7 separate regions of the Homo sapiens genome follow, and regions 2, 3, 4, 5, 6 and 7 are each linked to region 1. Evidence: fine-mapped expression QTL. A gene starts in region 1. Each other region holds a variant in brackets. All regions are shown on one strand. Distances are from middle to middle. Region 1 holds the start of TCTN1 (tectonic family member 1). Region 2 overlaps ATP2A2 (ATPase sarcoplasmic/endoplasmic reticulum Ca2+ transporting 2). Region 3 has its middle 16 kb from the start of PPP1CC. Region 4 has its middle 29 kb from the start of CCDC63. Region 5 holds the start of MYL2 (myosin light chain 2). Region 6 overlaps FAM222A (family with sequence similarity 222 member A). Region 7 overlaps GIT2 (GIT ArfGAP 2).

The links. PIP is the estimated chance that this variant, and not a neighbour inherited with it, causes the effect.
Region 2: its variant is fine-mapped to the expression of TCTN1 in whole blood (INTERVAL, PIP above 0.99).
Region 3: its variant is fine-mapped to the expression of TCTN1 in whole blood (TOPMed, PIP above 0.99).
Region 4: its variant is fine-mapped to the expression of TCTN1 in unexposed skin (GTEx, PIP above 0.99). The same link has a PIP of 0.9 or more in whole blood.
Region 5: its variant is fine-mapped to the expression of TCTN1 in tibial artery (GTEx, PIP above 0.99).
Region 6: its variant is fine-mapped to the expression of TCTN1 in whole blood (TOPMed, PIP above 0.99).
Region 7: its variant is fine-mapped to the expression of TCTN1 in whole blood (TOPMed, PIP 0.91).

Annotation. Positions count from the first base shown.
Region 1 is chr12:110,612,126-110,616,332 of GRCh38, reverse strand. It overlaps TCTN1 (tectonic family member 1), which reads right to left and starts at 2,204. Exons shown (of 15, transcript NM_001082538.3): 1 at 1,931-2,204. The coding sequence starts at 2,150. RefSeq lists an enhancer at 1,878-1,927.
Region 2 is chr12:110,289,467-110,293,673 of GRCh38, reverse strand. ATP2A2 (ATPase sarcoplasmic/endoplasmic reticulum Ca2+ transporting 2) reads right to left here. Exons shown (of 20, transcript NM_170665.4): 4 at 1,550-1,654. Among named protein-coding and RNA genes, the nearest start is that of ATP2A2, 10 kb to the right of the region's middle. The variant AG/G (reference allele first, on the strand shown) is at 2,033.
Region 3 is chr12:110,756,906-110,761,112 of GRCh38, reverse strand. No RefSeq gene overlaps it. Among named protein-coding and RNA genes, the nearest start is that of PPP1CC, 16 kb to the right of the region's middle. The variant C/TC (reference allele first, on the strand shown) is at 2,396.
Region 4 is chr12:110,816,273-110,820,479 of GRCh38, reverse strand. No RefSeq gene overlaps it. Among named protein-coding and RNA genes, the nearest start is that of CCDC63, 29 kb to the left of the region's middle. The variant G/A (reference allele first, on the strand shown) is at 1,815.
Region 5 is chr12:110,919,350-110,923,556 of GRCh38, reverse strand. MYL2 (myosin light chain 2) reads left to right here and starts at 2,978. Exons shown (of 7, transcript NM_000432.4): 1 at 2,978-3,030. The coding sequence starts at 3,028. RefSeq lists an enhancer at 2,170-4,207. The variant G/A (reference allele first, on the strand shown) is at 1,731.
Region 6 is chr12:109,764,695-109,768,901 of GRCh38, reverse strand. It overlaps FAM222A (family with sequence similarity 222 member A), which reads right to left. Exons shown (of 3, transcript NM_032829.3): 3 at 1-890. All of the region lies in intron 1 of FAM222A-AS1 (FAM222A antisense RNA 1), which reads left to right. Among named protein-coding and RNA genes, the nearest start is that of FAM222A-AS1, 6.7 kb to the left of the region's middle. The variant G/A (reference allele first, on the strand shown) is at 2,085.
Region 7 is chr12:109,975,270-109,979,476 of GRCh38, reverse strand. The region is part of intron 7 of GIT2 (GIT ArfGAP 2); the gene reads left to right. All of the region lies in intron 1 of LOC124903013 (a long non-coding RNA gene), which reads right to left. Among named protein-coding and RNA genes, the nearest start is that of GIT2, 19 kb to the left of the region's middle. The variant G/A (reference allele first, on the strand shown) is at 2,209.

The DNA of each region.
Region 1 (4,207 bases):
CTGCAGTGAGCTGTGATCATGCCACTATACTCCAGCCTGAGTGACAGAGTGAGACCCTGTGACCAAAAAAAAAAAAAATAAAGTGTGAGGACAAGCACAAATTCATCCCCTATACTGGAAAAACAGCCTTGAACACATGCTATAATAATGATGTTTCAAGCATAGCTTTATTTTGGAGAGAAAATGCATTAACAGATGGAGTACTTACATGAATAAAAGACAATCCAGTCCAAAAACTTTAGAGTTTCAGGCATTGAATACTTGGCTTTCTTCTGTCCCAGTTTATCACTGATTTAACTTCCCTACTAATTCATCAAATCAACAATTTAAATATAAAACAGAGCTCTGTTTATATATTAAAATAGCAAATATATTTCTCTGTACTTTTTCTTTCAGATTACTCGTAATTCAGAAAGGAGAGCTTTTGGAGAAATAAAGGTTCAGTAACCGCAGTTAAGTCCTAGAGTTCAAGATCTCAGCTGATGACTTTTTTACTTACTAATACTGAGCCTTAATCAATTTGAGAAAAGATCTTCTTAAGAAGGGATAGGCTGGGCACAGTTGTTTACACCTGTAATCCCAGCACTTTGGAAGGCCAAGGTGGGAGGATCACTTGAGCCCAGGAGTTTGAGATCAGCCTGAACAACATAGCGAGATCTCATCTCTACTAAAAATAAAAAAATAAAAAAAGCAAGCTGGGGGAGCACGCCTGTGGTTCCAGCTACTCTGGAGGCTGAGGCAGAAGGATCCCTTGAGCCCAGCAGATTGAGACTTAAGTGAGATATAATCACGCCACTGCACTCCAGCCTGGGTAACAGAGCGAGACCTTGTCTCAAAAACAAAAAAAGAATAAAAAAAGATTAAAAGTACTGCATATCTATTGGGGTTACTCTCAATTCACACAATCGGAAAATTTTAAAAACTTTTTTTGAGATCATGAACCACTTTAAGAATCGGCTGCTATGAACTCTCATCTCAGGAAAAGGCATATTCACAAAGTTTTGCACTCAATCTTAGCGGGTCACAGTCATTCAGTGAAGTCATCCATGTCAATTTTTTTTTTTGAGACAGTCTTGCTCTGTCGCCCAGTCTGGAGTGCAGTGGTAATTACTGCAACCTCTGCCTCCTGGGTTCAAGCGAGTCTCCTGCCTCAGCCTCCCGAGTAGCTAGGATTACACCATGCCCGGCTATTTTTTCTATTTTTAGTAGAGACTGGGTTTCGCCATTTTGACCAGACTGATCTTGAACTCCTACCTCAAGCAATCCACCCGAGTTGACCTCCCAAAGTGCTGGGATTACAGGCGTGAGCCACGGCGCCAGCCAAACGTCAAATTAGATTATAAAATATTTCCACTAAATGTGTAATTCTAGAATTAATCATTTTCTGAAAAAAATGTTAATTATCCCTACATATGACTCCTAAGAAGTGAGCATAACCCCTCCCTCAATAGCTTTCCACCTCCAATTCAACACAGGAGGAATCCTGGGTTTTTAGAATTCAGGTCAACAGAGAAGGGTCTTAACATAGTCACATTTAGTAAGATAGACCTTTGGCCTCTCTTTAAGTGAAAGTTCAGTGCAGCCAAGGCACTAATTTCCACCATTGTCTCGACTTAATTTCGTCTTGGGCTGCAAGAATTCATTATTGCTCTTTGCATCACTGTTGTCTGGGACCACTTCAAGTATTTTCAAAGGTTTGATACCGTTCCACTTAAACTCTGAGACCCGGTTTTCTCATTTACCTGACAGTGATAGTAACAGCTACTTCTCAGGGTTATTGTTTAGAGAATGGACGTTTATGGAACACTCAGCAGTGTCTGCACACAGTAAGTGCTCAATAAGAGTTAGCTATCATTATTACGTCCTCACCGGGGCTGTCCCCTTGAGGTTGGATCACTGTGGACTCCAGGAGCTGGCACATGGTACCCACCGTCCGTGACTGGGGTAGGCCTGGGGCCGGAGGAGGGCCCTGGAGCCCTGGGAGTCCCGGGGGGCCTGGTCGACGGGAAAGTTCCGAAGGTGGCCAGGGCTGCCTCGGTGGAGTTGAGGCCCTCTGTCGTCACCGCCGGGGTGGCATCGGTCTGGGCGCTCACGGAGGCCCAGCAGCCCAGGAGCACCACCAGGAGCGGCGGGAGACCTCGCGGCCTCATCTCCCAGGGAGTCCCAGCGAGGCCCGCGACATGGACAGCGCGTTGCCCGGCAACCGCGACAGCCAGGCGCGGGGCATCACGGGAAGGGGCTTGCGAAGCCGCGAGAAGCTGCCGGAGACTGACTGGGGCGAAGCCTGGATGAGGCAGGGGGCGGATCCCGGATGAGGCCGGAGGGCGGCGCCTGGGTGAGGCAGCGATGGCAGGCACAGGGGCGAGCACTAGTGAGCGGGTGTGAAGCTGGCGTAAACGAGGGGCGTGTAAATCCCGGCTGTGGTTTCCAACCGGTCCGCGGCGCTTGCTTAAAAAATGCAGATTTTCTGTAGTTCCAGCTACTCGGGAGGCTGAGGCAGAAGAATCGCTTGAACCCGGGAGGTGAAGGCTACAGAGAGCCGTGAGCGTGCCACTGCACTCCAGCCTGGGCGACAGTGTGACACTCTGTCTCAACCAAAAAAAAAAAAAAAAAAAAAAAAGACGGATTTCCAGGTACCACCTCAGGAGATCCTGAGTCAGTTAGTCTAGGGCAGGACCCAGGAATCAGTTTTTGGGGGATTTTTTTTGAGACAGGGTCTCACTCTGTCGCCCAGGCTGGAGTGCAGTAGCGCGATCTCGGCTCACTGCAGCCTCGACCTCTGGGACTCAAGCAATCCTCCCACTTCAGCCTCCTGAGTAGCTGGGAACTCAGGCGCGCGCCACCATACCCAGCTAATTTTTGTATTTTTTTTTTTTTTTTTTTTTTTTTGTAAAGACGAGGTCTCCCTCCGTCGCCCGGACTGGTATCGAACTCCTGGTTCAAGTGATCCACCTGCTCCAGCCTCCTGAGTCCTGAGTAGTTGGGATTACAGGCGTGAGCCACCACTCCCAGCCAGGAATAAATATTTTTAACAAATGTCCGGACGCAAGCAGATGAGTTGGACGGAAATTTAGGAAGCGCCGTCCCAACGCCACTAACGTGGGTGTTTGGAAGGAGCACAGGGATCTGTGAGATCACTGTCTCTGAATTTTCTCTATCCCAGACTCTGTCAACACTGGCTTCACCTTTTTATTTTAGCTGCATCTCACAAGGTTGCCAGATAACTTCTGTCTGCTGTATTGTGATAAAGGGGACAAATGAACACTTAATACCTTTTATTATTTTTTGTAGAGAGGGGGTCTCACTATGTTGATCAGGCTAGTCACAAACTCCTGGCCTCAAGTGATCCTCCCGCCTCAGCCTCCCAAAGAGCTAGGATTACAGGCATGAGCCACCACGCCAGGCCTAAGAACCTATTTAAAGACAAAAATCTTTTACAAAAATTAAGTAAAATAATTTAGACATCTTAAAGGGGAAAACAAAGCAAATCCACTGTAATGCTACAAAACGACCTGGAGACCCTACGATTTAGGAAACCCTCTCCATTCTGAATGGGCTTATTTAGGAGGTACCCAAGCCCAAGAATGTTGGCTGCACCTTTGACACTTAATCTCCATACAGTTCAGAAGTAGATGTCGAAGTACTTAGACGTGGCCAGGCACAGTGGCTCACACCTGTACTCCCAGCCCTTTGGGAGGATCGCTTGAGTCCAGGAGTTGAGACCAGCCTGGGCAACATGGTGAAACCACATCTCTACAAAAAATACAAAAATTAGCCAGGTATGGTGGCACATTCCTGTAGTCCCAGCTACTCAGGAGGCTGAGGTGGAAGGATCGCCTCAGTCTGGAGAGCTTGAGGCTGCAGTAAGCCATGATAGTGCCACTGCACTCCAAAACAAAAAAACCTTAAACATAACACAGTATTTATTCAAGAAATGTATATACCAATTCAAAAGGATGTCAAACAGTATATATATCTAGTTTATTAAATGTATTTAGCAAAACTAAATCATCAAAGTGATATCTTTAGCACCTTCCTGTGGCATTCCAGAGACAGTGTATAAAAATATAATTGAATCACTCAAATGTGTAAGACAGATACTTCTTTTTTTCTGCAAAGGATTGCTTTAGCATCTGACTGAAATTCTGGACTGCTTTTAATAACTGATTAAATGCTTCCCCTTTTAAAAAAAATAACCAAAAGTAGG
Region 2 (4,207 bases), 320 kb after region 1:
ATGTAATCCTAGCACTTTGGGAGGCCAAGGCAGGGGGAATCATCTGAGGTCAGGAGTTTGAGACCAGCCTGACCAACAAAATGAAACCCCATCTCTATTAAAAGTAAGTAAGTTAGCTGGGCATGGTGGCACGTGCCTGTAATCCCAGCTACCCGGGAGGGTGAGACAGGAGAATTGCTTGATCCCGGGAAGTGGAGGTTGCAGTGAGCCAAGACTGCACCATTGCACTCCAGCCTGGGCAACAAGAGTGAAAGTCGGTCAAAACAAACAAACAAACAAACAAACAAAAAAAAAAAAAAAAAAAAAGGCCGGGAGTGGTGGCTCACACCTGTAATCCCAGCACTTTGGGAGGCCGAGGTGGGTGGATCACGAGGTCAGGGGTTTGAGACCAGCCTGATGGTGAAACCCCGTCTCTACTAAAAATACAAAAATTAGCTGGGTGTGGTGTCAGGTGCCTGTAATCCCAGCTACTCAAGGAGGCTGAGGCAGAACTGCTTGAACCTGGGAGGCGGAGGTTGCAGTGAGCCGAGATCGTGCCACTGCACTCCTGCCTGGGCGACAGAGAGTCGGTCTCAAAACAAAAACAAAAAAAAGGTCTACTTCAGTCCTCAAAGGGGTGATTATATCCGTCAAATACCTAAAAGATCAACACTTAACATGAATTTTAAGTCTCAGAGTCTGTAGTAAGCACTGAAGGGGAAACAATTTTTATAGCTAAACCTACCAAAAAAACCCAAGGAGAATAAAAATGACATGTAGCTTTTAAAGTTTGTCACAGGAAGCAACTAGGAGACATAAAGATAATGGTTCTCACATTCTCATTTCCTTAAGCAGCTTCTCTCACCCATTTTAATTCCTTGCTACCGTAAAGAATGAACAATGTTTTTCTGAGACAGTGTTGCTCCTTTGCCCAGACTGGAGTGCAGTGTTACGATCATGGCTCACTACAGTCTTGACCTCCTGGGTTCAAGCAACCCTCCCACCTCAGCCTCCTGAGTAGCTGAGACTACAGGCTGGTGCCACCACACTTGGCGAAGAATGAGCAATCTTAACTGCAAAGTTTATATGCATTAAGGTCAAAAATTTGCAATTAATTAAATTAATAGGCCGGGCATGGTGGCTCACGTCTGTAATCCCAGCACTTTGGGAGGCTGAGGAGGGCGGATCACTTGAGGTCAGGAGCTCAAGACCAGCCTGGCCAACATGGTGAAACCCTGTCTCTTACCAAAAAATACAAAAATGAGCTGGGCGTGGTGGTGCGTGCCTGTAGTCCCAGCTACTTGGGAGGCTGAGGCACGAGAACCACTTGAACCTGGGAGGAAGAGGTTGCAGTGAGCCGAGACAACACCATTGCACTCCAGCCTGGGCAACAGAGTGAGACTGTGTCAGAAAACAATTAATTTATGGAATAAAGGGAAAATACATGTAAACTTCCCGCAAACATATTTTTACTCAACACATCAGGAAAAACAGATAACAGAAAGATTAATACAGCCCTAATCACTTACATAACTTATTGAAATTTTGCAGTACAGGAATTTTTGCTTACCTGCCATACACCCACAATTGCATTGGCTACTAATATGAGTAAAATTACAAAAGGTTCTACAAAGGCTGTAATTGTTTCTTCACCTTCTTCAAACCAAGCCAAAACCTAGAAGAGAAATGGCACGTTAGAATGTGTCTTTTTAGGCTTAATGTCACTTTTTTAAAAAGTGGCTAGCACTGGCCGAGCATGGTGGCTCAGGCCTGTAATCCCAGCACTTTGGGAGGCCAAGGCAGGCGATCACCTGAGGTCAAGAGTTCCAGACCAACCTGCCCAACATGGCGAAACCCCATCTCTACTAAAAATACAAAAAATTAGCTGGACATGGTGGTAGGTGCCTGTAATCCCAGCTACTCAGGAGGCTGAGGCAAGAGAATCACTTGAACCTGGGGAGGCAAAGGTTGCAGTGAGCCGTGAGTGTACTGCATGCCATTGCACTCCAGCCTGGGCAGCAAGAGCGAAAACTCAAAAAAAAAAAAAAAAAAA[AG/G]TGGCTAGCACTAAAGGGATTATGATAGACAAAATCTATTTTCTTTCTCTAGAAATAAACGGTAGAAAATGCAATTATATAAACAACTGGCTATGTCTTGTTCATAAGAATTCTTGAAAGTCAAAACTATACTTCAGCTGGGCACAGTGGCTCACACCTGTAATCCCAACACTTTGGGAGGCTGAGGCGGGCAGATCACCTGAGGTCAGGAGTTCCAGACCAGCCTGGCCGACATGGCGAAACCCCGTCTCTACTAAAAATACAAAAAAATTACCTGGGCATGGTGATGTGTGTCAGTAATCCCACCTACTGGGGAGGCTGAGGCAAGAGAATCACTTGTACCTAGGAGGCGGAGGTGGCAGTGAGCCGAGATCGTGCCACTGCACTCCAGCCTGGGCAACAGAGCAAGACTCGGTCTCAAAACAAAAAAAAAAGCCGGGTGCGATGGCTCACGCCTGTAATTCCAGCACTTTGGGAGGCCAAGGCGGGGGGATCACCTGAGGTCTGGAGCTCGAGACCAGCCTGACCAACACGAAGAAACCCTATCTCTACTAAAATTACAAAATTAGCAGTGTGTGGTGGTGCATGCCTGTAATCCCAGCTACTCAGGAGGCTGAGGCAGGAGAATCGCTTGAACCCGGGAGGCAGAGGTTGCGGTGAGCCAAGATCGCACCATTGCACTCCAGCCTGGGCAACAAAAGCAAAACTCAAAAAACAAACAAAAAACTATACTTCATGGCTGGGTGTGGTGGTTCAAGTCTGTAATCCCAGCACTTTGGGAGGCCGAGACAGGTAGATCGCCTGAGGTCAGGAATTCGAGACCACCCTGGCCAACAAGGTGAAACCACCTCTACTAGAAACACAAAAAATTAGCCAGGTGTGGTGGCGCACACCTGCAGTCCTAGCTAGTTGGGAAGCTGAGGCAGGAGAATCGCTTGAACCTGGGAGGCAAAGGTTGCAGTGAGCTGAGATCGCACCACTGCACACCAGCCTGGGCGTTAGAGCAAGACTCAGTCTCAAAAAAACAACTATACTTCTTAAAAATACCTTATCTTTTGATGTAATAATTCCATTTTAGAATCCAAATAAAATCTGGGGAGAGGGAATAAATTCCATTCATTTTATATGTATCTATTTAGAAAAAATAAAACTTCAATTCTTGATTAAAGTAAAAGGTGATCATCTAACAGTCATGTTCATTTAGTTATTATTCATATCAAGTAATATCCATGTGACATAAATCCACAGTATAAACAACTTGATCACTGACTTAAATTTTAGAGCATATATAAACTGTTTAATTCTAGGCCGGGAACAGTGGCTCATGCCTATAATCCCGGCACTTTGGGAGGCCAAGGCAGGAGGATCATTTCATGCCAGGAGCTTGAGACCAGCCTGGGCAACATAGCGAGACCCTCATCTCTATAAAAGAAACAAAAAACCAGTTAATTCCCCGTTTCTTTTCAGTGGTACTACTGAAGGCTGTTTCAGAACCGCAAAGCTGTTGGGAGATCCGAAGTGTATTTTGTAGGTTATCCTCCATATGACATTTATACAGCAACACAGCACTTCAGAGATAACCTAAGTCCAAAAATGTAACTGGTCACAGAACACTGCCCCAAGAAAATGGGGCAGAGGTTTAAACTTTTAGCTCATACAACTATAAACTTGTTAAGATTTAAAAACTACAAAGTAAGAGTCACACTGCACTTCCCAATCCAACAACTATAAACGTGGTAAAAAGAGAGAACTCACCACAATGAATACTAAGAATAATGAATATGGTAAAGAGTGGTCTATGTGGTTAAAAATTTAAAAACCTCTTTTTGTGGAAACTTACCAATCCAGAAACAGTGTTAACCACATCTAATGATTTAATCTTGGAGGTCGAATTTTTTTTAATTAAAAAATTGCTTAAAATGTTTGCATATTTCATAATAAAATCTTCTTTAAAAGATCTACTTAGTAAATCATGAAAACACTCCTCCAAATGATTTATGGCAATAATGAATCCAAATGACTCATTAGAAGACGGCATGAATAAGAAATATCTGTTTGAGCAGGACAAAAAGAAAAATAAAAACAGGAGGCACCAGGACCACCAAGTCCTGACAGATGCCAATCACCACCAACGTCCAGTGAGCTAGGGCAAACAGACAACCAGAATGAGTATA
Region 3 (4,207 bases), 140 kb before region 1:
GGGCCCACCACATTTTTGTAAATAAAGTTTTATTAGGAAACAACCACACTCATTCATTCTTTGATGTATTGTCAAAGACTGCTTTCATGCTACATTGGCAGATGAGTATTCATGACAAAGACCACTGGGCCTGCAAAAGTCAAAAATATTTTCTATCTGGAGCTTTACAGAAAAAGTTACCATCTCCTGCTCTAAATCATGTCACACTCAAATTCTCTGGTGTATGGAATTTTATGACCTTATAGAAGGAAGCATCACCTTTTCATAGAAAGTCCATAGCAAGCTGAAAGGGCCAAACTGCCCTGCCATCCCATTTGTGTGGAGGCAGGCTCTTCAGATGCTAAATCTACCCCCAGCTTTCCGAAGGCAAGTGGTGAGGTGAGGAGCATGGACACCAAGCCCCCGGCAACTTCACTCTGAGCCAGAAGCAGCATCTTGCTGTGGGTCTTGCTGGATGGTAGAATTATGTGTGATTTCATCCTTTCCACGTTTCCATGTTTTCTAAATATTTAACACATTATATTTGTCTGCTAGAGCTTTCACAACAAAATACCACAAGCCAGGTGGCTTAAGCAACAGAAATTTATTTCCTCGCAGTTCTGGAAGCTGGAAGTCCAAGACGAAGGTGTCAGCAGGGCAGTTTCATTCTGAGGCTCTCTCCCTGGCTTTAGATGACCGTCTTCCACCTGTCTTCACAGGGTCTTCTTCTGTGTGTGTTTGCTGTGTTCTAATCGCTCTTTTTTTTTCTGCTCTGTCACCCAGGCTGGAGTGCAGTGGTGCAATCATGACTCACTGCAGCCTTGATCTCCCAGACTCAAGTGACACTCTCAAGTGAGCCACCATGCCTGGCCCCTAATCTCTCTTCTTTCTTCTTTCTTTAGTCACCTGAGTAGCTAGGGCCATAAGCCATAGGCACACATCACCACACCAGGCTAATTTTTTTTTTTTTTTTTTTTTTAGAGATGGGGTCTCACCATGTTGCCCAGGCTGGTCTCAAACTCCTGGGCTGAGGCAATCCTCCTGCTTCAGCCTCCCAAAGTGCTGGGATTAGGATTACAGGCATGCACCACCATGCCTGGCCTAATGTGTCTTCGCTCTGTCACCCAGGCTGGAGTGCAGTGGCGCGATCTCAGCTCACAGCAAGGTCCACCTCCCCAGTTCACACCATTCTCCTGCCTCAGCCTCCCAAGTAGCTGGGACTACAGGTACCCGCCACCATGCCCCGCTAATTTTTTTTTTTTAAATAGAGATGGGGTTTCACTGTGTTAGCCAAGATGGTCTCGCTCTCCTGACCTCATGATCTGCCCACCTCGGCCTCCCAAAGTGCTGGGATTACAGGCATGAGCCACCACACCCGGACCCTAATCTCTCTTCTTATAAGAACGTCATTCATATTGGATTAGGGCCTACCCTAATGACCCCAATCTAACTCAGTCACCTCTTCCAAGGCCTTATCTCCAAATACAATCACATCCTGAGGTTCTAGGGGTTAAGACTTCAACCTTGGAATTTTGGGAGGATGCAGTTCAGCCCATAGCACATATTGTATTTGCATTATTCAAACATGGACAGTAAACTGCTAAAAATTTTTAAAAGGTAGACCAAAAATCATGACCAACATTTTAATCTGAAATTTTTATTATGTAAGTAATATCTGTCTGATACTTTTAAAACAATTCAAAGAGTATAGAAGATAACAAGGGGAACACCAGCACCTATTCCCAGCCAGCCACACTCCCCACTGTTGACATTTTGTGTATATCCTGCCAGAAATTTTCTTTTTGTTAAATTTATTTTTATTGTTGAGATTTTTATTTTATTGTTGAGGTCTCGCTATGTTGAGATTACAGGCGTGAGCCACTGCACAGGGTCTTGCTATGTTGCCCAGGCTGGTCTTGAAAACCTGGGCTCAAGCGATCAACCTGCCTCAGCCTCCCAAAGCGCTGGGATTGCAGGTGTGAGCCACTCTGCCCAGCCCCCTACCGGAAATTTTCTCTGCCTAGACAAGGATATATAACCACCTCATACTTTTTTATTTTACACAAACAGGTTTATGACTTATATACTGCTCTGCAACGTGACTTTTTACACTGAACAATAAATAAATCATTGTATATTTTCAAAGCCTGTCATACATCTCAGTGCCTGCTTCTGGAAAACCCAACTTGCAACAGGTTATTTTGTTTTTATCTTTAAACATAAGCACAAAACAAAGAAATAAACAGCAACAAATACATAGAATGAGTATGAAAGGAGAGGGATGATTATTCTTTTAATTTTTATTTACCTTGGTGATGTTGCCATGCTGATTTTGGACTTTGGAAAATTAAATCAATAATGAGCCATTTGTTTCCCTCTCCCACTCCCACTGTCAAAATAATTAAGATTTTTTTTT[C/TC]CAGCCTTAACTCCCTCGGGTGGTTTCTCTTCCTTAATCTATAAAGCAGCAAAGTCAAAAAGAGACTGTCCCTTGCCCCGGCGGCTGCAGTGATGGGCACTCTTGGGCCAGAGAGAGGCCTGTTCTGCCCCGTGAGATGGCCCACAAATGGCCTTTCTTCCTCCTAGAAACAGCCATCAGCTCCCAGGCCCTGCCAGGCCTGTGATGTGAGGTGAATAGCAAGGTTCCCACGCATACCCACTGGGAGCCCAGTGCTGTGTTAAGCTCTTACCTGCATTACTTCATTCAATTCTTCCCCAACTATTATCCCAATTTTACAACTATAATGTTGTGTTTTTGTTGTTTTTTGTTTGTTTGTTTTTGAGATGGAGTCTCGCTCTGTTGCCCAGACTGGAGTGTAGTGGCGTGATCTCGGCTCACTGCAACCTCCACCTCTCGAGTTCAAGTGATTCTCCTGTCTCAGCCTCCCGAGTAGCTGGGATTACAGGCACGTGCCACCACACCTGGCTAATTTTTGTATTTTTAGTAGAGACGGGGTTTCACCATGTTGGTCAGGCTGGTCTCGAACTCCTGACCTCATGATCCGTCAACCTAGGCCTCCGAAAGTGCTGGGATTACAGGCGTGAGCCTGCACCTGGCCCATTTGTTTATGTTTATTCAACTTTTTTTGTTGTTATTTTAGAAACAGAGTTTCACTCTATCACACAAATTGGAGAGCAGCGGCATGATCACTGTTCACCGCATCCTTGACTTCTGGGCTCAAGCGATCCTCCTGCTTCGGCTTCGTAAGTAGCTGGTACTACAGTGCACCCACCCCACCTGGCTAATTTTAAATTTTTTTGTAGAGACAGGGTCTCACTATGTTGCTAGGCTGGTCTTGAGCTCCTAGCCTGAAGCCATTCTTCCACCTTGGCCTCCCTAAGTACTGGGATTTACAGGCATGAGCCACCATGCCTGGCCTATTCAAGAATTTTTTACTGAATACCTTGTATGTGCCAGGCACGGGCCCAGGCACAAAAGCAAGAATAGCAAGCAGACAAAAATCCCCACCCACGTGGAAACAGAAAACAGGCAATCAAAGACATAACACAATGTCAGGCAGTGAAGAATCACATGGAGAAAAACAGAAAAATGGGAAGGGGGCTGGGTGCAGTGGTTCATGCCCATAATCCCAGCACTTTGGGAGACAAAGACAGGAGGATTGCTTGAGCCCAGCAGTTCGAGACCGGCCTGAACAATATAGTGAGACTCTGTCTTTACAAAAAAAAAAAATTTTTTTTTTTGAGACAGTTTTTCACTCTTGTTGCCCAGGCTGGAGTGCAATGGAGCAATCTCGGCTCACTGCAACCTCTGCCTCCCGGGTTTAAGGGGTTCTCTTGCCTCAGCCTCCCGAGTAGCTGGGATTACAGGCATGCACCACCACACCCAGCTAATTTTTTTAAGTAGACACGGGGTTTCACCACATTGGCCAGGTTGGTCTTGAACTCCTGACCTAAAGTGTTCCATCCGCCTCGGCCTCCCAAAGTGCTGGGTTTACAGGCATGAGCCACCGCGCCAGGCCCAAAAATTTTAAAATTAGCCGAGTGCAGTGCTCTGTGCTTGTGGTTCCAGCTACTCAGGAGGCCGAGGCTGCAGAATCACTTGAGCCTGGGTGGATGAGGTTACCGTGAGCCCTGATCGTGCCACTGCACTCCAGTCTGGGTGACTGTACCAAACCCTGTTTCAAAAAGAAAAAGTGTGATGGAAGGATTGAGGGCTAGGGAGCATTTTATTCCGGTGGTCAGGGAAACCCTCTCTGCCAGGGTGACAGTT
Region 4 (4,207 bases), 200 kb before region 1:
GAAGCTTATTTCTTTCTTAACTAGGCCTGGTTATGGTGGTCAATGGTATCCTCCCAGCCAGATGCACCTCCATTCAGGGCACTCCTACGTCGCAGTTCAAGATGGTGGCCTTCAAGTTCCAGATGCCAGAATAAAAGAAGGGATGAAGAAGCAGTGACCTCTTAGAGAGAGTGTTTCAGAACCACTGCGGGACTCTTCCCCCGACATCCTTAGCCCATACCAGAGTCCCATGGCCACACTTACCCACAAAGGAGGCTGGGAATTCTGGACAGCCATGTTCCCTAGTAAAATTGGATTTCTTTTACTTTGAAAGAGGGAAAAAAATGGATGTTGGGAACATGGAGCAGTCTTTGCCACAGTTCTGTAGGCCTCGGTGTCCTCTTCTGTGATCTGTGGGTAACAATAGTTTCACCTCACAAGGTCGTTGCAAGAATGAATTGAGTTAATGGGTATAAAGAGCTTACTAAGTGGGCAGTGAATATTAGTAATTATGATGATGATTAGTAGAACATCTTGACAGCAAATTAGCAGGAGGAAAAAGAAGTCACTGTTTTCTGTGCCAAGGAAGGGTGTGACCAGGTGAAATCGGGCTCGTTGATTTGGTAAATGTGGGCACCTCCCTAATGACAGGGAACCGCCCAGAGAAAACATTCAAGACCAGCTTTAATGCCCAGAGAGCAGTCAAAGGTAAATTCGTATCTCCCTTTGTATCCAAGAATCGAGTCAATGTCCTCAGGGACAATTTGTGCTGCTAAGGGAGCCAAAGGTGGCCCTTGAATTAACTCACACAATTCATTTGCTTCTCAAATCTTGTTCCCAGGGCCTGGGTGAAGCAGGCCCTGGGCTCCCTTGATAGTAAGTGGGGCTGGGGAGTGAGTGGTTGCTGTCAGTTGAAGGGACCACAGGACAGGGCTGGAATCTTGAGTCTTTCCAGGGGGTGTCTGGTGCTCTCGTCCACTGAACTTGGACAGAAAATCCTCTTCTTAGGAGCAGACAAAATTTTTCTTGGGAGAGAAAAAAAGTTTTTTGTTATCATCTTTTCTGATTTCAAGATTAGCAATTTGTCTAGCAAAATCCCAACAAACTAACATGTATCCAACAGGCCTTGTGAGAGGGATGTGAACCAGAGCAACTCCATCTTGAATAGGGGCTGAGTAAAATGAGGCTGAGACCTACCGGGCTGCATTCCTAGATGGTTAAGGTATTCTAAGTCACAGGATGAGATAGGAGGTAGGCAGATACAGGTCATAAAGACCTGGCTGATAAAACAGTTTGCAATAAAGAAGCCGGCTAAAACCCACCAAAACCAAGATGGCAACAAGACTTGACCTCTGGTCGTCCTCACTGCTACGCTCCCACCAGCATCATGACAGTTTATAAATGCCATGACAATGTCAGGAAGTTACCGTATATGATCTAAAAAGGGGAGGCATGAATAATCCACCCCTTGTTTAGCATATCATCAAGAAATAACCATAAAAATAGGGCCACTAACAGCCCTCAGGGCTGCTCTGTCTATGGAGTAGCCATTCTTTTATCCCTTACTTTCCTAATAAACTTGCTTTCACTTTACTCTATGGACTCACTCGACTTCTTTCTTCCGAGAGATCCAAGAACCCTCTCTTGGAGTCTGGATCGGGACCCCTTTCCAGTAACAGCCTCAGGAGCGTCCTGGAATTCCACTGGGGGTTTCTCAAGATGTAGTGTGCACCAGGGCCTTGTTAAAAATGCAGGTGTCACCATGAGTTGCTAATCATTGACATGAACAATGGGTGTACAAAGGTTAATTATAATATTCTGAGCCAAGGAAGGTG[G/A]CTCATGCCTATAATTCCAGCAGTTTGGGAAGCTGAGGCAAGAGGATCTCTTGAGCCTAGGAATTCAAGAACAGCCCTGGCAACATAGCAAGACCCCGTCTCTACAAAAGAAATTAGAAAATTAGCTGGGTGCAGTAGTGCACACCCATAGTCTGAGCTACTCAGGTGGCTGAGGTGGGAGGATCCCATGAGCCCAGGTGTTTGAGGTGACTGAGCCATGATCGTGCCACTGCACTCCAGCCTAGGTAAAAGAGGGAGACCATGTCTCAAGAAAATAAAAAAATAGGCCAGGTGCAGTGGCTCATGCCTGTAATCCCAGCACTTTGGAAGGCCAAGGCAGATGGAGCACTTGAGGTCAGGAGTTCAAGACCAGCCTGGCCAACATGGTTAAACCCCATCTCTACTAAAAATACAAAAAATTAGTGGAGCATGGTGGCACATGCCTGCAGTCCCAGCTACTCGGGAGGCTGAGACAGGAGGATCACTTGAATCTAGGAGGCAGAGGTTGCAGTGAGCTGAGATGGTGCCACTGTACTCCAGCCTGGGCGACAGAGCAAGACTCTGTCTTAAAAGAAAAGAAACAAAATAAAAAATTGTGGCCGGGCATGGTGGCTCATGCCAGCACTTTGGGAGGCCGTGTTTTTTAACATTTTATAAGCATTTTATAAGCATTAATTCATTTAATTCTCACAATAACCCTATGAGATAGGTACTATTATTAATCCTATTTTACAGATATGGAAAGTGCTAGAAATGGAAAAAATAGGAGGATAAAAACAAACACCTGGCCGGGCGCGGTGGCTCACGCCTGTAATCCCAGCACTTTGGGAGGCCAAGGCGGGCAGATCATGAGGTCAGGAGATCTAGACCATCCTTGCTAACACTGTGAAACCCCATCTCTACTAAAAATACAAAGAATTAGCCGGGCGTGGTGGTGGGCGCCTGTAGTGGGTGGCTCATCCCAGCACTTTGGGAGGCCGAGGCGGGTGGATCACAAGGTCGGGAGATCGAGACCACCCTGGCTAACACGGTGAAACCCCGTCTCTACTAAAAATACAAAAACAAAAGTTAGCCAGGTGTGGTGGCGGGCGCCTGTAGTCCCAGCTACTCGGGAGGCTGAGGCAGGAGAATGGCGTGAACCTGGGAGGCGGAGCTTGGAGTGAGCCGAGATCGCGCCACTGCACTGCAGCCTGGGCGACAGAGCGAGACTCCATCTCAATTTAGAAAAAAAGGTAACATTCTCTCTACTTTCATGTATGTTCAACATTTTCTATAACAAAAGGTTTTTAATTTAAAAAAATATATTTAATACAGGTAGCAGAACCCAGCCCCAAAAACTTCTCAATCTGTAGCTCAGGGTGGAAAAGGAATCTTTTCATGCCCACTTGTTTCAACACAGTTAGAAAAAAACACTTAGATTGGATTCATTACGTACTAGATCTGTTGGAAGTGCTTTATAAATAGGAAGATAATCTCATACCTGCATGTCATTATTGCACCATTTTACAGATGAGGAAACTGAGGCATACATAGGTGAAGTGATTTGCCCTCTTCTCACAGCTAGCAAGTGGCAAGGCTAGGATATGAACCCAGGCAGCCAGGCTCAGAAACGAAGTTCCACCCTCTATCTCCTCTGCCTCTTACAGTTCTGTGAGCAACCTCTATTGACATTCTAACTAGCTCCTTTCAGACTTTTTAAAACTCTCTTGTTTTCACATTCATCTATATCTGCATAAAGATTGTAGGAAGAACAGGCTGGGCACAGTCCAGCCTCTGGTCCTTTGTTCCTCTGGTCCTTTTGTTACTTGGGCTTGGAAAGTTGGGACTTTCCTTTTGATTTAGTTCTAGGAAGTCAGCATGAACTGACCTTAGTTTCCCTGCCTGCAGACGCTATTCTCCTGCCTCAGTGTCAGCAACGAATTCCTAGTGGATTTTACCTGGCTATCTCAGGTATCCCAGAATATCCCAGAGCATCCCAGGAAGAAGCACCTCCTTGAGTTTAAAATACTCACATACCATCCACCTCCCCATCCCAGTCACTGTCTAACCCTCTTCCCCTGCTTTGCTTGTTTCCATTGCTGTTATTTTTCTCTGCTATTATATATTCATTTGTTATTGTTTACTTACCTGCTGTCTGTCACTCCCTGTAGCACATGAGCTTCATGATGGCAGGGACCTTGTCTCCTGTTTTCCTTGCTACAGTACAGCCCTGGCACCTTGCCCAGCAACTGACACACACTAGGTGCTCAATAAAGCACTGAGTGCGTGTGTGAGTCAATGAGAAGTTGGGATATGAGGACAGCTTATGTCTGTGAGCTGGGCCCAGGCTGGCCCTCCCAGAGATGATGTTTCACAAAGGTCTCAGCTCAATCCTGAAATATAAAGACTCAGAA
Region 5 (4,207 bases), 310 kb before region 1:
ACAACCTTTTCACTTGGCCAGTTGGAGCTACTGACTGCTCACACAGGGTTTTAACGAAAATCTATGGTGTGCCTATTAGCTAGGGAAACATTTATTCTGGTGTTGTCAGAGAACCTTGGACAGAAAAGCTCCTCTTGATGTGTGCACTGCACATATGTGGATGCGTGTACATGCACGTGTCTGTGTGCCTCTATGCATGTGCAGACGTGTTTTTGTCTGTGCATGCATGTGCCTACACACACACATGAACACATCTTTTGTTATTAAAGATCTGTCAGAAGAGTGTCCTGGGTAACTCTAACCCATGTGGGACTGCAGAGAAGAAAAAAACCCACACCTTTTTTTGTCACAGCCATCAATGGTCCTTGGGTTTGTGTGCCCCCAAATTGAGATTATTTTTCCACCTGAGAAGGGGAGTGAGTGATAGCTACCATTTGCCAGGTCTCACCTCCTTTTACCCTCTGGAAAACCTAATAAGAAAAGTGATTTCTTTTTTTAAGCTCTGGAAAACTCCAGCCCCAGGGGGCCTTCTGTTCCTCAAAGCCTCCAAATTCTCCCTGCCTTGAGGTATGTGCTGTCCCCACTGCCTGGAGCCCCCTTTGCAGACTCTGCTTGGAGGAGCCCACCTGCGCCCCTGTCTGAGGCTGTCACCTGGCCACTGCCATGCCTCTGTCTCATCCCTGCATGAGATCCGTCACTGCCTGCAACTGTCTGGGTTGTGCATTTGTTTACTTTCTCCTTGTCCATCTTCCCCTCGCACTTACGCACCTCAAGGGAAGGGAATTTGTTGCTTTGCGCTGGGCTCGATGAAGGGGAATGAATGCTGGTTCAGCCATCAGCCCCGCACCCACACTACTGGGAGGGCAGAGGGACATTCTCCTTCTTAGAGGTGTGGCCTCTGGCACTCAGGCCTGCCACCCACGGACACTAAATAACCACAATGATTCCAAGCCCCGAGTTCTTGCTCCCTGAATCCCAAGGCTGTCTTTAAGGGCACAGGAAGATGGCCATCTTTTGTTGTTTTGGTTTAGTTTGGGGTTTTTTTGGTCTTTGTTTTTGAGATGGAGTCTTGCTCTGTCGCCCAGGCTGGAGTGCAATGGCACGATCTCGGCTCACTGCAACCTCCGCCTCCTGGGTTCAAGCAATCCTCCTGCCTTAGCCTCCCAAGTAGCTGGGAGTACAGGCATGTGCCACAACGCCCAGCTAATTTTTGTATTTTTAGTAGAGATGGGGTTCTGTCATGTTGGCCAGACTGGTCTTGAACTCCTGACCTCAGGTGATCTACCCGCCTCGGCCTCCCAAAGTGCTAGGTGTGAGCCAACATGCCCGTCCTTTTTTTTTTTTTTTTTTTTTTTGAGTCAGAGTCTCACTCTGTCGCCCAGGCTGGAGTGCAATGGCGCTATCTCGGCTCACTGCAACCTCTGCCTCTCGGCCTCAAGCGATTCTCCTGCCTCAGTCTCCTGAGTAGCTGGGACTACAGGCCCGCGCCACAACGCCTGGCTAATTTTTGTATTTTTAGTAGCGACAAGTTTCATCATGTTGGCCAAGGTCGTCTTGAACTCCTGACTCAAGTGATCCACCCGCCTCAGCCTCTCAAAGTGCTGGCATTTCAGGTATAAGCCACTGCACCCAGCAGGAAAGCTGTCTTCAGTAAAAGTATTATATAATGACACCTTGCATTCTGAGAGCAGCTGCTGTTTTCAAGGCTCTTAAAGAGCCTGGACTCTGGA[G/A]ACAAAGGGGCCTCCAGAGGGGTCCACGCCTAGCTCCATCACTGTGTGACCCTGGGCAGCTCACTTCGCCTCTCTGAGCTTTTGTTTCCGCATCTGTAAAATGGGGGCATGGATGATGAGGTGGTCCCCACCCTCTAGGGTGGCTGGAAAATTATGTGTGGGAGCCATGAGCACATAGTGTCCGGCACGTGCCAGTGCTCAGTCAATGAGATTTGTCATTTCTTCAGTCAACAAATATTTATTTTTGAGCTGCTGCTGTGTGCATCATGAGCTGGGAGCTGGGGAGACAGTCAGTGGTGAGGGAAACTAAAGTGATCCCTGCCCTCTGAGCTGACGCTCCACAGATGCTGAAGAAAATGAGTCAGTGCACTGTGGGCAGTGTTCGGGACTGCCTCACGCTGTGCAGAGAAACAAAGAAGGGAGATCGGAGCGCAGGAGGTGCGTGGCTGTGTTATTTGTTTGTTTTGAGACAGGGTCTTGCTCTGTCACCCAGGCTGGAGTGCAGTGGTGTGATCGTGGCTCACCACAGCCTCAACCTCCCGGGCCCAAGTGATCCTCCTGTCCCAGCCTCCTGAATAGCTGAGACTATAGGCATGCACCACCACGCACAGCTATTTTTTTTTCTTTTGCGTAGAGACAGGCATCTCCCTATGTCACCCAGGCTGGTCGCAAACTCCTAGGCTCAAGCAATCTTCCCGCCTCGGCCTCCCGCCGTGCTGGGATTTCAGGCATGAGCCACAGTGCCAGCCTTCATGGTTATTTTAAAGATGGTGGTCGGGGAGGCTTCACTCAGGAGATGACATATGAGCAAAGATGCAGTGAAGGAGGTGAAGGAAGGAGCCGTGCGATGACTGACAGAAAGACATTCCAGGTAGAGGGCACACAGGTGCAAAGACCCTGAGGCCAGATCCAGGCTGATAAAACAGAGCATTTTAGCAGTCTCCTCTCCCTGCCATTTTTTTTCTCAAAATTGACAAGCACAAGTGTCCCCGGCCCAAGCACCGCAGAGAGCGCGCAGCATCTCTCCCCGTGACCATGACCCAGCTACTGCCTCTTTAACCTTGAATGCCTTTTTGGGGGCTCACGTGTCACCCAGTGGCGAGTGAGCCACCCTTACTTCAGAAGAACGGCATGGGGTGGGGGGGCCTTAGGTGGTGCCCGCCTCACCTATGACTGCCAAAAGCGGTCATGGGGTTATTTTTAAACATGGGGAGGAAGTATTTATTGTTCCTGGGCTGCAGAGAGCTGGGCGGAGTGTGGAATTCTTCTCGGGAGGCAGTGCTGGGTCCTTTCCACCATGGTGAGTACAAGGGCTCCAGGAGGTGATGATGCCGGGTGGGCGAGGAGAGGAAGCCACTACAAGCGAGGGACCACGGCGGAGGGGGAGGAAGGCGGCCCTCAAAGCCTCCAGCCCCTTGTGGAAAAAGCCCCATTGACTGCGCGGGCACAGAGGAACCCCAATCAATGCCCCGATAGGCCACAAATAACAGCAGCTCTCGGGGACTCACAAACACAAAATAAGAGAGTTGGCTTTTTTATGGCTTGTCTACTGACCTCTCGAGGAATCAATAACTCCCAGGACTTGCAAAATGGGATTGAATGCTTTTAAGGATCAAATTGTAATTCTTTTCTCTTGTTCAGGCAGCTGGGAAAAAGAATGTTTTTGTTTTCACCTTTTGAACTTGCAAATTTAAAACCTTTCTTTCTGTGCTGTTGGGTTAGGTGTCCCCCTCCTGAAGTGGGCAGTCCCCAAATCAGGGTCAGCACAGGAGGGAGAGTGGTTAGAGGCAGGAACTCTGGAGTCAGAATGCCCAAGTTCAACTCCCCAAGTTCAACGCCCAAGTTCAACTCCGGCTCTGCCTTCTGTGTGTGTGGCTGTGTGATCTTGGGCAAGTGACCCAACCTCTCTGAGCCTCAGTTGCCTCTCCTGTAAAATGGGGATGATAATAATAGTATCCACTTGACAGAGTGGTTATGAGAATTAAATAATACATATGTAGAGTACCGAATCATTTGCTGTTATTGAAAGTCAGAGAGAAGTGGGGTGGGGAAGAAAGGTCAACTCGCTCTTCTCTGCCCTATTGATGTGGTGCAAGGACGGAGCATTCAGAGAGGAGGTTTTGCTGCCATTTGGAGCAAGGGAAAATTGTGGGGTGTGGGGCGCAGTTGGGTTTTAACACCTTGAAGAACTGTCATTTCATCTTGGCATTCATCATGGCTTAGTGAGCCTGACTTTTTCTTTCCCTCCAATCAATTCTCCTTCTGTGCATTACTGAGCTTTTTGTGAAATGCATCAGAACAAAAGTGGCTGGATCCTGCAGGGGCGATCTGAAGGTGTGGCCTCCATCCCCAGGGACACACCTGTGGCTTCTCCTAGTTGGTGAAGGAGCCACTGCAAGATGCACAAACGCTTATGATCCACTGGTACCAGAGGGCTCTGGAGAAACTTCATGTCATGTCCTTTGCTCCCTCCAGCA
Region 6 (4,207 bases), 850 kb after region 1:
GGCCCGCTCGTATGCCCGGCCCCCGCAAGCCTCAGGGGACTTGCTGGCCACCGTGCTCCCACTGTAGGCACGCAGTGGCTGGGGCGGCGGTGGGGGCGGTTTCTGCGGCCACAGCAGGTAATCCAGGCCGCTGTCTGCGTACCCTGCAGGCTTGGCGGCCCCAGCCAACGTCAAGGCTTGGGTGGCTCCCTGGCCCAGCTCAGTGCCTTTCCGGCAGTCGGGCAGACCGGCTGCAGCCGAGTAGGCCATGCTGGGGAAGCTGGGCACTGGGCCGTGCTTGGCAGGGCTGGGATGGGGAATAGCCATGCCCTGGCAGGCAGGGGGTGCGGCGCCCGGGGCCTGGCACTGCTGGTTGAGCTGGTACAGGAGGCTGTGGATGGAGGGCAGGTTGGAAGGTGGCAGGGGCAGGCCCCGGCCCGGCAGGGGGATGACGGAGGCGGCAGTGGCGGCTGCGGGCAGGCCGGGTGGTGGAGCAGGCGCCTCAGGTGGCTTGGGGTAGGCCAAGGGACCCAGAGTGCTGGGCACTGGGTAGGGCGCAATGCCCACCTGCACGGCGGCCGGTGACAGCTTGGTCCGCTTGCCCTCGGCGCTCTTGAGCACACTTTTGGCGGGCCCAGCTGGTGCGGCCGTGCTGGAGGAGGAAACCGCGGCCTTGACAATGGCCAGAAGGCCCTGGTAGCCAGCGGTGTGCTGTGGGTAGGGGCTGTAGCGCTGGCCACTGGTGTCATAGCCATTGACTGTGCGGCTGAGGTGCTTGTGCTGGGGCACACGGATGTTGGTGGGGAAGATCTTGATGGACAGCGGGCTGTTGGCCACCTTCTCGGCATAGGCGTCCAGTTCTGCTGGGCTCGGGTAGCGGGAGGAATGCATGGCGCTGGCCACCGCCTCGCCTGTGGGAGGAAAGCAGGTGTGAGGGCCCATCAGGAGGCCATGCCAACCTCTCCCCACAGGGCTCACGAGTCCCGCCCCCTCCACTCATTTCCCATTCATTTTACTCCTTATTCCTTCTACATTTTTAAACTTCGAATTTCAGTGTAAAGTGCAGGGAACTGCCTGCATCATAAGCTTGATGGACTTTCACAAAAGGAACACACCTGTTTTATGGTACCCAGGCCAGGAGACAGGACATTGCTAATCCCCTGTAGGGTCCCTGGGCCCCTCCCAGTCTCTAACCACACCACGCTAACCACTATCCTGACTTCTAACATGGACTGGTTGTGCCTGGTTTGTGTATGTGGTAAGATGGAATTCTACAGTATGTACTCATTTGCACCTGGCTTCTGTCACTTCATACTATGTGAGAGTCATCCAGGTGGCTGTGTGGGGAGTAGTCTGGTCTGTCTCATCGCTGTATGGTATTTGTTGTGTGACTATGCCGCAATCTATTCATCGTTTCTGTTCTTTTAGAGACAGGGTCTTGCTCTGTCACCCAGGCTGGAGTGCAGTGGTGCAGTCATGGCTCACTACAGCCTCGACCTCCTAGGCTCAAGTGATCCTAGGCATGCGCTAGCATGCCTGGCTAATTTTTGTATTTTTTGCAGAGACGGGGTTGCGCCACGTTGGCCAGGCCAGTCTTAAACTCCTGAGCTCAAGTGATCCTCCTGCCTCAGCCTCCCAAAGTGCTGGGATTACAGGCATGAGCCACTGCACCTGGCCCAACCTTTCTATTCTTGATGGCATTTGGGTTGTTTCTAGCTGGGTGAGGTGGCTCACACCTGTAATCCCAGCACTTTGGGAAGCTGAAGTGGAAGGATCGCTTGAGCCCAGGAGTTCAAGATCAGACTGGGTGACACAGCAAGACCTTGTCTTTATAAGAAAAAAAAAAAAAAAAAAAAAAAAGAAGCCAAGCATTATGGTGCATGCCTATAGTCCTAGCTACTTTGGAGGCTGAGGTGGGAGGATCACCTGAGCCCAGGAGTTGGAGGCTACAGTGAGCTGTGACTGTGCCATTGCATTCCAGCCTGGCCGATAGAGCAAGACCTTGTCTCAAAAAAATAAAAGTAAATAAATACAGTGCCATGGCCCCTAGTGCATGCAGAGTTCTGTTGGAAATATACCCAGGAATGGAATTTCTAGGTCACAGG[G/A]GAGATGCCCCTGCCCGGCTTCGGGAGAAAATGCCTGACCATTTATCCGTGAGACCATGCCAGGCTACACTCCCACCCGCAGAGCACAGGAGTTCCAGTGGCCCCACAACCTGCCAGTGCTTGGTGTCATCTTTCATTCTGTCACCACTCTGGGGGACATTCCTTCCTTCTAACCCTTTTATCCTCCGTATGCCTTCCTTCCTCACCTGTGAAACGGGATGATGACCCCCTGCCCACCTCATTGGCTGGTTAAGTGTGCTACTACGTGAACACGGCAGATGGGGCTTAGCGCCAGGGCGAGCTGCTGCCTCTTGCTTCCTGGCCCCTCCTTGAGTCTACTGTTCACCTGTAAGGCCAGCATGGCTGCTGCTGCCTTTTTAGTGAGCCGCCTGCATGGGGCTGAAGGGTACGCTCTGTGCTACAGGCTGACTGTCCCCACTATAAGTGGACACAACTGGCCCTGCCATGGGGAAGGAGGGCCATGGCGGGCAGACTCCTGCCCCCATCCATAGCCCCTCCCTGGTCCTGAGACATTCCCAAGGGCAGCCCACAGCTTTCCGGGGCTGAGGGGGTATGGAGAGTGGTGGTGGTGGAGTTCCATGAGGCAGATGGAATGGCCCTGGGCATGTAGTTTGCCCAGCTGAGCCTGTTTTCCCACCTGTAGAATGAGGGTCATGATCATGCCAGGTCTCCAAGGTGGCCTCAAGGAATGGAGGCGCCGGGGGCTCAGTAGGGGGTGAGGTACATGATAGGTGCTTGGAGCTCATTACTTTCAGGGGAGCCTGGGAGAGGAGCTTCACCACTCGGCCTCTGCTTCCTCATCTGTAAAATGGGGTGATGCTACTGCTAATACTACTTCCCAAGATGGCTGGGAGGGTTTGACGGGTCATGTGCGGTAGATGGCGTTAACAAAAGCTGGTGTTCTGTGAGCGTGAGTATTAATACCTTCCCCATCTGCCCAGAGAAAGGGCCCTCCCAGAAAAGGGGCAGGGGACTCATGCCACCCTTCAGACAGGCACAGGTGGGACTGGCATCGCAGCTGGGGATAGAGTGCAGACCCTGCTACCTCCCCACTGATCAGAAGGCTGCTGGCCATGTCCCAACCTTCTAAAGCATCGTCCCTGACACCTCGTGGGCTCACAACCAATCCAAGTGAAATGGGATGGAGAGGAACAGGCGGTGGCGGGACATGGGGGTCCAGAGACAGCTTCCCAAAAGGAACTGTATCCTGGTTAAGTCCTGGGCCACTGGTAGAAGAGGTGAAAAGGGAGGGAGAAACAGATTTCAGGCAGAGTAAACAGCCCAGGCAAAGGCCCTGAGGCAGAGAAGTAGTCAGGGTGGGAACTGCAAATGACTCGGGAGGAGAGAGGCACCGGGGCAGGCTTGCAGAGAGAAGCCCAAGAGAGGTGGCCGGCCGGGAGGGCCTCTTCGCTGCAGGAAAGCGGCTCTCACTGCACGGGGCACTCTGGCTGTGTGTAGAGACATGATTGGCTGTCACAGCTAGGGGTAGAGGTGCTACTGGCATCGGGTGGGTCATGGCCTGGGATGCCACTAAACATCCTACAATGCACAGGACAGCTCTGCCACAGAAAAGGGTCCAGTCCCAACTGTCAGCAGGGCCAAAGGGGGAGAGGCCCCGACGTGGGGCACTGGGCAGCCATGGGAGGTTTTAAGCAGGGTAAGGCATGGGCAGGCCTATGAGCCTAGGCAAATGAGCTTCAGTGGGCTTATTTGCCTCTGCCCTGGGTGAAGGGTGTGGTCTGACCTGGCCAGGGCAGCAGGGAGTGAAGAAGTAGGTGGCTCTCCGTTCATCTGGCCTCACTGGGGCTGGGCAAGTGGACCCAGCCATGGACCCCCATCCCGACTCTGCCCGGGGCAGCCTCCTCCTAAGTGGCCTAAAATAAACTCGGTGTGGAGAATGGAAATGTCACTTTGGCCAACGGGGGAATCTTTCTCCGAGATTGGATTTAAACTACATTATACAAGCAATTTCATGGGCACTTAGCGCCACTCGGAGAGTCCCGCAAAAAAGGGACCAGCTCTTCATTTACCAGCCATAAATCAGCAGTTGCTATAATGAGCACAAAAATGTCACTTTTATGCAATTTTACAGATGAACAAAA
Region 7 (4,207 bases), 640 kb after region 1:
ATGGTGAAACCCTGTCTCTACTAAAAATACAAAAAAATTAGCTGGGCATGGTGGCAGGCGCCTATAGTCCCAGCTACTCGGGAGGCTGAGGCAGAATTGCTTGAACCCAGGAGGCAGAGGTTGCAGTGAGCCAAGATTGCGCCACTGCACTCCAGCCTGGGTGACAGAATGAGACTCCATCTCAAAAAAAAAAAAAAAAAAAAAGCCTTTTTCTGGTTAAAGAGCAGGAAATGGGACTTCTACAGGACAGAGAGGAAGGGGATTCCCCTGGGGTTTTTTCCTCCTCCTCCTTCCTTTTTCTGATCTCTCCCATCCAGCCCCTAGGCAAGCCTGTGGCTGCAATAGCAGCAGCAGCAGTGGCAGCACAGGTTCCTAAATCTCTGAGCAAGGGGATGAGGGGGGATCCTGATTGCTTGTCTTTTTCTCTCTATTCTCTCACCATCTGCCCAGGAGGCAGAACCTCACCTGGTCAGTTGCCTGCTAAGACAAAAATATGAACATTTTTGCATAAAGTTTAAAGAAGGCCCAGAGTCTCATAACAAAACATTCACAGTGTCTAGGATATCATCCATAATGACTTGACATCTGAGTAATTCTCATGTACTTGCCAGGGAAGGCAGCCAACAGATGCCAACCCCAAGATGACACAAATGTTGGCGTTATCAGACAAAGATTTTAAAGCAGCTAGTAAGACCATGCTATAAGAAGTAAAAGCAAACATTCTTGAAACAAACAGGAATATAGAAAGTCCCATCAGAGAAATAGAAGATACAGAAGAGAACCAAATAGGAATATTAGAACTGAAAAATACAAACACTAAAAATTTAAAACTTACTGGATGGGCTTAATAGAAGAATAGAGATGACAAAGAAAGTCAATGAATTGAAAACAGATCACTAGAAATTATCTGGTTTAAGCAACAGAGAGGAAAAAAGAGTAGGAAGAAAAGACTGAACAGAGTCTCAGGGACCTGTGGGAAAATACTAAAATGTCTGACATTTATGTCGTTGGATTCCCAATAAGAGATGAGAAAGAGTGGTGTGTGCAGAAAACGTATTTGAAGAAATATTGGCCAAAAAAACCCTCTAAATTTGGGACAGGCTCAATGGCTCACACCTGTAATCCCAGCACTTTGGGAGGCTGAGGCGGGCAGATCATTTGAGGTTGGGAGTTTGAGACCAGCCTGGCCAACATGGTGAAACCCCATCTCTACTAAAGATACAAAAAGTAGCCGGGCATGTTGGTGCGCACCTGTAATCCCAGCTACTCAGGTAGCTGAGGCACAAGAATCACTTGAACCTGGGAGGTAGAGGTTGCAGTGAGTCCAGATTGAGCCACTGCACTCCAACCTGGGCAACAGAGCGAAACTCCGTCTCAAAAAAAAAAAAAAAAAAAAAAAACCTCTAAATTTGGTGAAAGACATAAACTTACAGATTCAAGAAACTTAGAAAATTCCAAAGAAGATAAACTCAAATCCACAGTTGAGACACATCAAAATCAAACTGTTGAAAACTAAAGTTGAAGAAAACATCTTGAAAGCAGCCAGGAAAAAGTGACACATAACATATATAGAAAAACAGTGATTTGAATGATTGTGGATTTCTTATCAGAAACCATAGAGATGAGAAGGAAATGAAATAATACTTTGTTTGTTTGAGATGGAGTATCTCTCTGTTGCCCAGGCTGGAGTGCAGTGGTGCAATCTTGGCTCACTGAAACCTCCGCCTCCCAGGTTCAAGCGATTCTCTTGCCTCAGCCTCCTGAGTAGCTGGGATTACACGTGCCTGCCACCATGCCCGGCTAATTTTTGCATATTTAGTAGAGATGGGGTTTCACCATGTTGGCCAGGTTGGTCTCGAACTCCCGACCTCGTGATCCGCCCACCTCGGCTTCCCAAAGGGCTGGGACTGCAGGCATGAGCCACCTCACCCAGCCAGAATAATACTTTTATTATTATTATTATTTTGAGACAGGGTCTCACTCCATCGCCTAGGCTGGAGTGCAGTGGCGTGATCTCGACTCACTGAAACCTCAACCTCTTGAGCTCAAGTGATCCTCCCACCTCAGCATCCACAGTAGCTGGGACTACAGGTGTGTGCCACTGTGCCCAGATAACTTTTGTATTTTTTGTAGAGATGGGGTTTCACCATGTTGCCCAGGCTGGTCTTGAATTCCTGAGCTCAAGTAATCCACCCACCTGGGCCTCCC[G/A]ATTACAGGCATGAGCCACTGCTCCTTTTTTATTATTATTATTTTTTCTCATCTTCTTTGTGATGGTAGAAACAATACTTTTAAAGTGCTAAAAGAAAAGAGCTGTGAACCCAGAACTCTATATCCAATGAAAATAACTTTGGAATGAAGGCAAAATAAGGACATTCTAACAGGAAAAAAAAGAATTATTCTTTACTTTAACAGAAATGCTAGAGAAAGTTCTTTGGGTGGAAGGGAAATGATGCCAGAGGGAATCTTGGAACTTTAGGAATGAAAGAAAAACAACAGAAATGTTAAAGATGTGGCAGAGTAAGACCCTGTCTCAAGAAACAAACAAAAAGTTGAAATTGTCATACATATCTTAAAGCTGTAACATTGTCAGCCAGGTGCAGTAGCTCAAGCCTGTAATCCCAGCACTTTGGCAGGCCGAGGCAGGCGGATCACCTGACATCAGGAGTTTGAGACCAGCCTGACCAACATGGTGAAACCCTGTCTCTACTAAAACTACAAAAATTAACCGGGCATGGTGGTACATGCCTGTAAACCCAGCTACTCAGGAGGCTGAGGCAGGAGAACCACTTGAACCTAGGAGGCAAAGGTTACAGTGAGCCGAGATCGTGCCACTGCACTCCTGCCTGGGCGACAGGGAGACTCCATCTCAAAAAAAAAAAAAAAGAAAAGAAAACGCCAGGCGCGGTGGCTCACGCCCGTAATCCCAGCACTTTGGGAGGCCGAGGTGGGCAGATCACGAGGTCAGGAGATCAAAACCATCCTGGCTAACACGATGAAACCCCGTCTCTACTACAAATACAAAAAATTAGCCGGGCGTGGTGGTGGGCGCCTGTAGTCCCAGCTACTCGGGAGGCTGAGGCAGGAGGATGGCGTGAACCCGGGAGGCGGAGCTTGTAGTGAGCTGAGATTGCACCACTGCACTCCAACCTGGGCGACAGAGTGAGACTCCGTCTCAAAAAAAAAAAAAAAAAAATTATCTAGTAGGGTTTTCAGCATATATCAGTGTAATATATTTGACAACTATAATATAAAAGGGGATAGGGTAAAAAATATAATGGTAAGATTTCTACCTTCTACTGGAAATGTAAAATAGGATTTCTAAGTAGACTGTGAAAAGTTGTGTGTGTGTGTGTTTGTGTGTGTGTGTGTGTATAGTAATTTCTACCATAACCACTGAAAGAAGACTACAAGCCAGGCACGGTGTAGTGCCTGTAATCCCAGCACTTTGGGAGGCTGAGGTGGGCAGATCATGAGGTCAAGAGATTGAGACCATCCTGGCCAACATGGTGAAACCCTGTCTCTTCTAAAAATACAAAAATTAGCTAGGCATGGTGGTACGTGCCTGTAGTCCTAGCTACTTGGGAGGGTGAGGCAGGAGAATTGCTTGAACCCGGGAGGCAGAGGTTGCAGTGAGCCGAGATCATGCCACTGCACTCCAGCCTGGGTGATAGAGTGAGACTCCATCTAAAAAAAAAAAAAAAAAAAGACTACAAAGATATGTGATCAAAAATGCTAGAGGTAAATGAAAATGGAGTATTAAAAATTACTCAAATCATCAAAAGATATTTTGATTCAAAATATTCAAAAGAGGAGGGGGAGAACAAAAAACTAAGGACCAAATAGAAAATAAATAATAACATTATAGACTTAAGTCCGTACATATCAATAGTTACATTAAATGTTAATGACCCAAACACATCAATGAAAAGCAGAGATTCTCAGAATGGATTAAAAAACAAAAGGGGCTGGGAGCTATGGCTCACACCTGTAATCCCAACACTTCAGGGAGCCTGAAGCAATTCTCCTAATCGCTTAAGCATAGGAGTTTGAGACCAGCCCAAGCAACAGAGCAAGATCCTTTCACTACAAAAAATTTTATAGAAAGCAGCCAGGCATGGTGGTGCATGCCCATAGTCTCAGCTACTCAGGAGGGGCTGAGGTGGGAGGATCACTTGAGCTCAGGAGGTCAAGTCTGCAGTGAGTGCTG